2 linked regions of the Homo sapiens genome follow. The protein of the gene in region 1 purifies or fractionates together with the protein of each later gene. This does not show direct contact. Each region holds a gene or a part of one and is shown in the gene's direction. Other genes may lie near its edges.

What was found. The genes of interacting proteins can lie anywhere in the genome.
Region 2: the proteins of ZNF546 (region 1) and DNAJC10 purify together in Homo sapiens (co-immunoprecipitation; one large-scale study listed by IntAct). This does not show direct contact.

The regions. Positions count from the first base shown.
Region 1 is NC_000019.10:39,995,873-39,999,859, forward strand, and holds the start of ZNF546 (zinc finger protein 546), read left to right. Parts: upstream 1-1,187; 5' UTR 1,188-1,285; intron 1,286-1,988; 5' UTR 1,989-2,043; intron 2,044-2,375; 5' UTR 2,376-2,454; coding exon 2,455-2,538; intron 2,539-3,987. UniProt on the Homo sapiens protein: May be involved in transcriptional regulation.
Region 2 is NC_000002.12:182,722,757-182,726,256, forward strand, and holds part of DNAJC10 (dnaJ homolog subfamily C member 10 isoform 1 precursor), read left to right. Parts: intron 1-3,500. UniProt on the Homo sapiens protein: Endoplasmic reticulum disulfide reductase involved both in the correct folding of proteins and degradation of misfolded proteins.

The DNA.
Region 1 (3,987 bases):
AGTCCCTTCAATCTGGTTTCCATGTCCTTTGAACACGTCCCCACCATTCTTTGAGCACTGCCTTACTTTCAAGCACAAGATGTTCCAAGTTCATTCTGAACTTTCCCTTCCCCAGCTCTGGAATCTGCCATTTCTCCATGGAGCCTTGCTCCTTTCAGTGGAGCATGGTATTTAGGAACCAAGGGCTGACTGCCTAATGTGCTTTCCAAGTATAATTTCCTCAGTCCAAGCTTTTCAAATTGATCTGCCAAAGACCCATTGCCAAAGATCCATTGCCAGAATATAAGAGTGGAAGGAAATTCTTAATATTTTTTGAAAGTTACTATTATTTTCATTTTTCTCTTTGTAAAAAATTCATTTAATTCAATATAAAAAGACAAAAATCTTTGGCACATAAATCGCAACTCTCTGATGCAAATGTTTAAATAAAGCTGATACTCCAAGAAGACGCAACATATTCTCTTTATCCCACAGACATATAGGCCTATGGTTGCAAACTTTTATACACACACAGAGTCACAATTCCACTGGCACCCGTGATGTTCCACATCCAGATTTTCCAAATCACACATTCTCATCTTCACATAGCCTTGCCGGCAACCACACGGCATAGTACCACATTGTTACGTCAAGCACAGCCAGTCTACCACAGAGCCTGTCGTCCCATTGACCAAAGTCACAAAAATCACAGCCCCGGGTATTTACTGTGGTTTTCTCCAGTCAGATCCCTTCACTCACTACACACTGACTCACACTCAAATTACACACACGCGGAAACACAACCCGCCAGAGCCAGAGAGGTTCCGTCGGTCCCGCAACCCTCACAGTGCCACACACACGCGCTCACAAGGCAAATACAAATGGCCAGGCACTCATTCTTTACAATACACATATTAAGCGCCTATTATGTACTACACGCCGGGACTACCTCAAGAGGTGAAACAAACAAAATCCTGCCTGGCGGAGCTATCGCCCAGTCCCGCACGCACTCGGCCTCAGGGTCACACTCGGCGGTCCCACGCTCAAGTGGCCCGGCCAGTGGCCCAGAGGCGTCTGTTCTCCTCCTCAGCTTCCTGCGTGGGTTCCTGGTAAGTGAGTCGAACCCGCCGGATGCGCGCGCGCCTGCGCCTCCGCCCAAAAGGATCAGTTTCCGGCTGTGGACTACATTTCCCAGAAGCCCCTTGGGCAGTGTTGCCTGGACCCCAAGGGCCCTTTACATTGCGTTCTTAACGGTTCAGTCACCTTAACCGTTATTATTCACTTGCGGGCGAGAAGTCCGAGCTAGGTGAGGCGGAACGGGACTCTTACGAGTAGGACTGGGGATAGAACTGCCGCCCAAAGTGAGGCGCTCCAGGGCCCAGACCTGGCGTGTCGTGCCCGCAGGGAGCCTCAGGCCTGTGCGTGCTTGGGGAGCGGAGAAGGGAAATTGTGTGACAAAATGTGGCAGACGGTGTATGTGTGTGTGTGCGCGCGACGGGGCGCCTGTCAGGACCGGGTTGGGCGGGTGTGGGTGCGGGTGTGAGGCTGAGACAGGTGCCTGGCTCTCTGGTGTGTGTCACTGACCCTCTACCCTCCTCACGGCCTCGGTGTTTGCACACAGCAGTGTCCCCAAGAGGGAAGTCAAATATCGAGCTCTGGGATGAAGGTTCCCAGCAAGAAGGTACAGACCTGGGTTGGCGATTGGACTTTTGAATTAGAAGTGTCCCTAAAACAGACTCCTGGGACGACAGGTTGGAAGACTGCGCAGTTGGAGCCGCTGTGTGGGCAGCTGCATGTTTCAGAACCACTGCATTCCCATACCTTTGATCTAGAAACCTGGTGTGAGTTCAGAGACAGATCCCAGCCTCACTCTCACACAGCTGTTATGTGCGTGAGGTCAGCACAGATGTGGCGCTGGAGGGGATATTCTAGGTCGGTCTGTGCTCTTAAGAAAGGCCTGCTGTCTCATGATTATTTTTCTTCCCCCATTCTGCTATTCATCAAAACAGGGATCCTGAAAAGGAGGGAACAATTGTTGTAGCAGGTCTAAAAGTTCAGGTCCAGGTAAGTTTATATTTCCTTTTTATTCATAAAATGGAAATCACACATTCTAATCCTCACACAGCCTTGCCTGCACCCAGTCATACGGCGTGGTACCACACTGCTATGTCAAGCACAGCCACAATCTACCACAGAGCCTGTCACCTCATTGCTCACAGTCACAAAAATCACATCCCCAGGTACTTTCTGTAGCTTTCATTTGCATTTTTCCCTTTGAAGAAGTTCATTTGATTCAATCTAAAAAGACTAAATTATTTGTCACATAAATTGCAACTCTCTGGTCTATATCTTTAAGTAAATCTTTAAATAAATGCATAAAATGTTTTTGTTTTTAGGAAATGGAAACATTGCTTTGCTTTTCCTGAATTGTCCAGTGACCTATCCCAGGCCTTCCTTTCCAGTGAACAATGGACCATGCAGGTGGACCCTCCTCTTCACGGGCCTCCAAATGACTTTCTCATTTTTCAAATCATTCCTCTGCACTCACTTTCTATAATGGTAGAGAAATGCATATCCTGGAGTCTAAAGTTAAAACTTTGTTTTATTGAGATTAATGTTTAGGTAGAATCACATCATCCATCTTCTCCAATCTTCTCCAAAGACCTCAGTTTTAAAATATGACAGGATTAGAGATGACCTGACTAGTGTCAGTAAGCAAGTGATAATGGTCGCCTGCTTTTAAGGCTTTTAGAAGTGGGAATGTGATTGGAAGTCCAAGCATAGAAATCTGTGTGAACATGAGCAGGGATTTTTTTCCAAGGAATCCATGAGTTGAGATTTATTTTTATACAGAGTTAGTCATAAGAATAAAAAGTACATATGAGTAAAGTAATAGTCATAGTGATGAAGAATAATACGCAATTTTTTTTTCTTTTTTTGAGAAGGAGTCTCGCTGTGTCACCCAGGCTGGAGTGCAATGGCATGAACTCGGCTTACTGCAGCCTCTGCCTCCTGGGTTCAAGTGATTCTCCTGCCTCAGCCTCCCAGGTAGCTGGGATTACAGGCGCCTGCCACCATGCCTGGCTAATTTTTGTATTTTTAGTCGAGACAGGGTTTCACCACGTTGGCCACGCTGGTCTGGAACTCCTGACCTCAGGTGATTCACTTGCCTTGGCCTCCCAAAGTGCTGGGATTACAGGCATGAACCACCGCACCCAGCCGCAAATTTTAAATTTTATATGAATCTCACTAATATTAGGATTTAAAGACATTTAACAAGCATTATATCTAAATTAACATTTCAACTGATTATTTGCTGGAGAAGTAGAGGAGAACCAAACACTCTTCTGTCTGCTTTGTTCAAATTTTCTTATTCAGTCTGCAGACACTGTTCACCTGGCTTGTGTATTAAGAGAAGAATCTTAACAGTGAAAAGGTCTTGTTGAATTGAAGAAGAATGTTCAAGAACTGGCAGGCATTTATTTATAATGGTCATGCTGTTTTCCTATTGTTTGCATACATGTCAAACCAATTTGCTTCTGATGTGTTAAAACATTTTATTTTATAATTGGATATAGATCTATTGTATACTTCTGGTTATAGAATTAATATTCACCTTTTATAAATTATTTAGTTACTCATTATATTACATAAGGCACTTATAAAGAAGAAAGTTAAAATAGCCCCAGCATCACTATTAACACTTTGGGGAGCTATATTTTAGCAAGATTTTTTTTTTTTTTTGACAGAGTCTCGTTCTGTTGCCCAGGCTGGAGTGCAGTGATGTGATCTTGGCTTACTGCAACCTCCATCTCCCAGGTTCAAGAAATTCTCCTGCCTCAGCCTCCCGAGTAGCTGGGATTACAGGCGCCTGCTACCACGCCCAGCTAATTTTTTGTATTTTTAATAGAGATGGGGTTTCGCCATGTTGGCCAAGCTGGTCTCAAACTCCTGACCTCAGGTGATCCACCCACCTCGGCCTCCCAAAGTGCTGGGATTACAGGTGTG
Region 2 (3,500 bases), on another chromosome or scaffold:
ATGGGGAAAACCCTCTCTACTAAAAATACAAAAATTAGGTGTGCCTGGTGGCACGCACCTGTAATCCCAGCTACTTGGGAGGCTGACGCACAAGAATCGCGTGAATCTGGGAGGCTGATATTGCAGTGAGCCATGATGGCACCACAAAAAAAAAGAAAACTAAAATAGCGTACCAGTCGCAAAAAATACATATAAATCTATATGTTTTTCATATATTATCGTTAAAAATTTATTACAGCTACTTGATTTTATACAGTTTGTTCCTTCTAAGCAAGGGTGGCTTTTTTTTTTTTTTTTTTTTGAGACGGAGTCTTGCTTTGTCACCCAGACCAGTGTGCAGTGGCACGATCTTGGCTCACTGCAACCTCTGCCCCCTGGGTTCAAGCGATTCTCCTGCCTCAGCCTTCTGAATAGCTGGGATTACAGGTGCCCGCTACCACACCCAGTTAATTTTTGTATTTGTATTTTTAGTAGAGACAGGATTTCACCATGTTGGCCAGGCTGATCTCGAACTCCTGACCTCAGGCGATCCACCCACGTTGGCCTCCCAAAGTGCCAGGATTACAGGCATGAGCCACCACATCTGGCCAAGGGTGGCATTTTAATCTTATTTTCTACATCATGCTGGTGAGCTTCACATACAAAATAGCTGTTCAATGTGTTACTTTGTTAAAAGCCTTCTAGGTGAACACTTGAACATGTTCTAAGTGAATAGAAAATACATCTTTCCTGTGTTCTGCAAATAAGACAATTTGATTCATTTGGATTGTTAATAGAATTAATGCTCATGTCACAAGCTGGTAGAATCATAACTCTCGTGTGAGTTATATAAACCTATAGCTGTTCCTGTGTGGTTTTTATTGTCTCTCATCTCCTAATATATCAGTAAGTGTTTTGTGTACCAATGGTTCAGAAAACATCGGAATTACAGATAGAGGAACTGAACAAAACTTGCAAGCTTACTAATCCATGAGTCTACCTAGAATGAGACTTCACTGATAGTTATATTGTATATGGGTTCACACTTTTTCAGATGTGTCACTATGCAGAAAAGCTTAAGAACTGTTAATAGTTCATATAGAACCCCAAATGGTAGTTCAAGATAAATTGCAGCCACAAAACTTCAGAGATAATTCATAAATAATTAACCTTGCTTGATGAGAGGAATGAGCAGGAGCATTGTTGTGATAGAGAAGGACCCTCTAGTGAAGCTTTCCCAGGCATTTTTCTGCTAAGCAGATGTTATCATTTCTGGCTCTCTAGAAAGTCAACAAGCAAATGCCTTCTAAGCTCTTCTATTATATGCAGCATAGGTTAAGTAGGTTTAATCAATTCTGACAGCTACTGTAAACTCTGAAAGAATAAAATAAGAGACCTACATAATACAGTAAGGATTGCGGGGATTAAATTTAATATAAGCCCTAAATAAGACATTACCTTGGAAAATCACTTTATTTGAAAAGATTGACTTTTTTTTAACAATTCAAAACATTAATACATACTTGCTAAAATTATAGATTTGAACATGTGATATCTAGCCAATAGTGCAGTTTATATTTTATCTGTAAAATGACCTGATGCAAATTACAAATTTTACTCACTTAAAAAATTTAACATTGTAAAAATGTGCTTTCACATTCAAGATAAAAAGGCGAGGGTAATCTGCTTTTGGTTAAAGGATTTCCATATGATTCCATGTTAAAATTAGTTAATATTTTAAAATAAAAATTTCAGAAATTACAGTAAGACATTAAAACATGCATGGTATTCTAAATACGTGCAACTAATTCAGGCTAATTAGAAACAGGTACAGGACTCAGTGTTCACCTACATTTCAAGTATAAGATAGACCTGTGGGGAAAAAGTTAATCTGTACCTTACAGGCAAAGTAATTACATTTTACTTTGCTAATAGAAGCTGTTAACTGGAGTTGTATGTATATTAACAGACAGTAGCTGTAGTTGTATAGTTTAGAAGTGGAAAGTTGCATTTTGAAATGTAATAATTCTATTCTGGGTCACTGTTAGGCACAACATCCCATTGAGCTGTGATGATACAGTATTTAAAATATTTTAACTTTATTCTTATTACTCAGCAATCAGTGGGAACTTGGCAAATATGAGAAGTGCTCGATGAAGACAAAGTACAGGTGTACCTCATTTTATTACACTTTGATTTATTGCACTTCATAGATAATGCACTTTTTTTTCCTTAACAAATTGAAGGTTTTTAGCAACCCTACATCAAGCGAGTCTATCAGCTGAACGTGTTTCCAATAGCATGTGCTCATTTCATGTCTCTTTCTCACATTTTGGTATCCAAACTTTTTCATTATTATTCTGTCTGTTACAGTGATCTACAGTCAGTGATCTTTGATGTTACTATTGTAATCATTTTGGAGTGTGCCCATAGGATGGCATACTTAATTTTTGTGTCTATTCTGACTGCTCCCTCTTCCTTCTCCCTTTTCTCTCCCACTTCTTGGGCCTCCCTACTCCCTGAGATACAACATTACTGAAATTAAGCCAATTAATAACTACAGTGACCTCTTAAGTGTTGAAGTGGAAGAGATGCACATCTCTCATTTTAAATCAGAAGCTAGAAATGATTAAGCTTAGTGAGGGAGGCATATCAAAACCCAAGACAGGCTAAAAGGTAGACCTCTTTTGCTAGTTAAATTATAAATGCAAAGGAAAAGTTCTTCATGGAAAGTAAACGTGCTACTCCAGTGAACACACTAATGATAACACAAAACAGCCATACTGCTAACATAGAGAATGTCTTAGTGGTCTGGGTAGATCAAATTATCTACAACATCCCCTTAGCGAAAGCCTAACCAGAGAAAGACCCTAATTCTTTTCAATTTTATGGAGGCTTAGAGAGATGAAGAAGCTGCAGAAAAAAGTTTGAAGCTAGAAAAGGTTGGTTCATGAGGTTTAAAGAAAACAGCCATCTCCATAACATCAAAATACAAGATGAAGCAGCAAGTCCCGACATAGAAGCTGCAGCAAGTTTTCCAGAAGATCTAGCTAAGATCATTGATGAAGGTGGCTATACTAAACAACAAATTCTCAATGTTAATGAGACAGCCTTCCATTGGAAGAAGATGCTATCTGGGACTTTTTTTTCATGCCTGCTAACACCATATCCATTCTGCAGCCCGTAAATCAAGGAGTAATTTCAACTTCAAGTCATATTATCTAAGAAATACATTTCATAAGGCTCTACCTGCCATAGGTAGTGATTCCTCTGATGGATCCAGGCAAAGTAAATTGGAAACCTTCTGGAAAGGAGTCACCATTCTAGTGTCATTAAGAACATCTGTGATTCATGGAAGGAGGTCAAAATATCAGTGTTACAGGAGTTGGGAAGAAGTTCATTCCAACCTTCATGGATGACTTTGAGGTGTTCAAGGCTTCAATGGAGGATGTAACTGTAGATGTGATAGAAATAGCAAGAGAACTGGAATTAGAAGTGGAGCCTGATTATGTGACTGAATT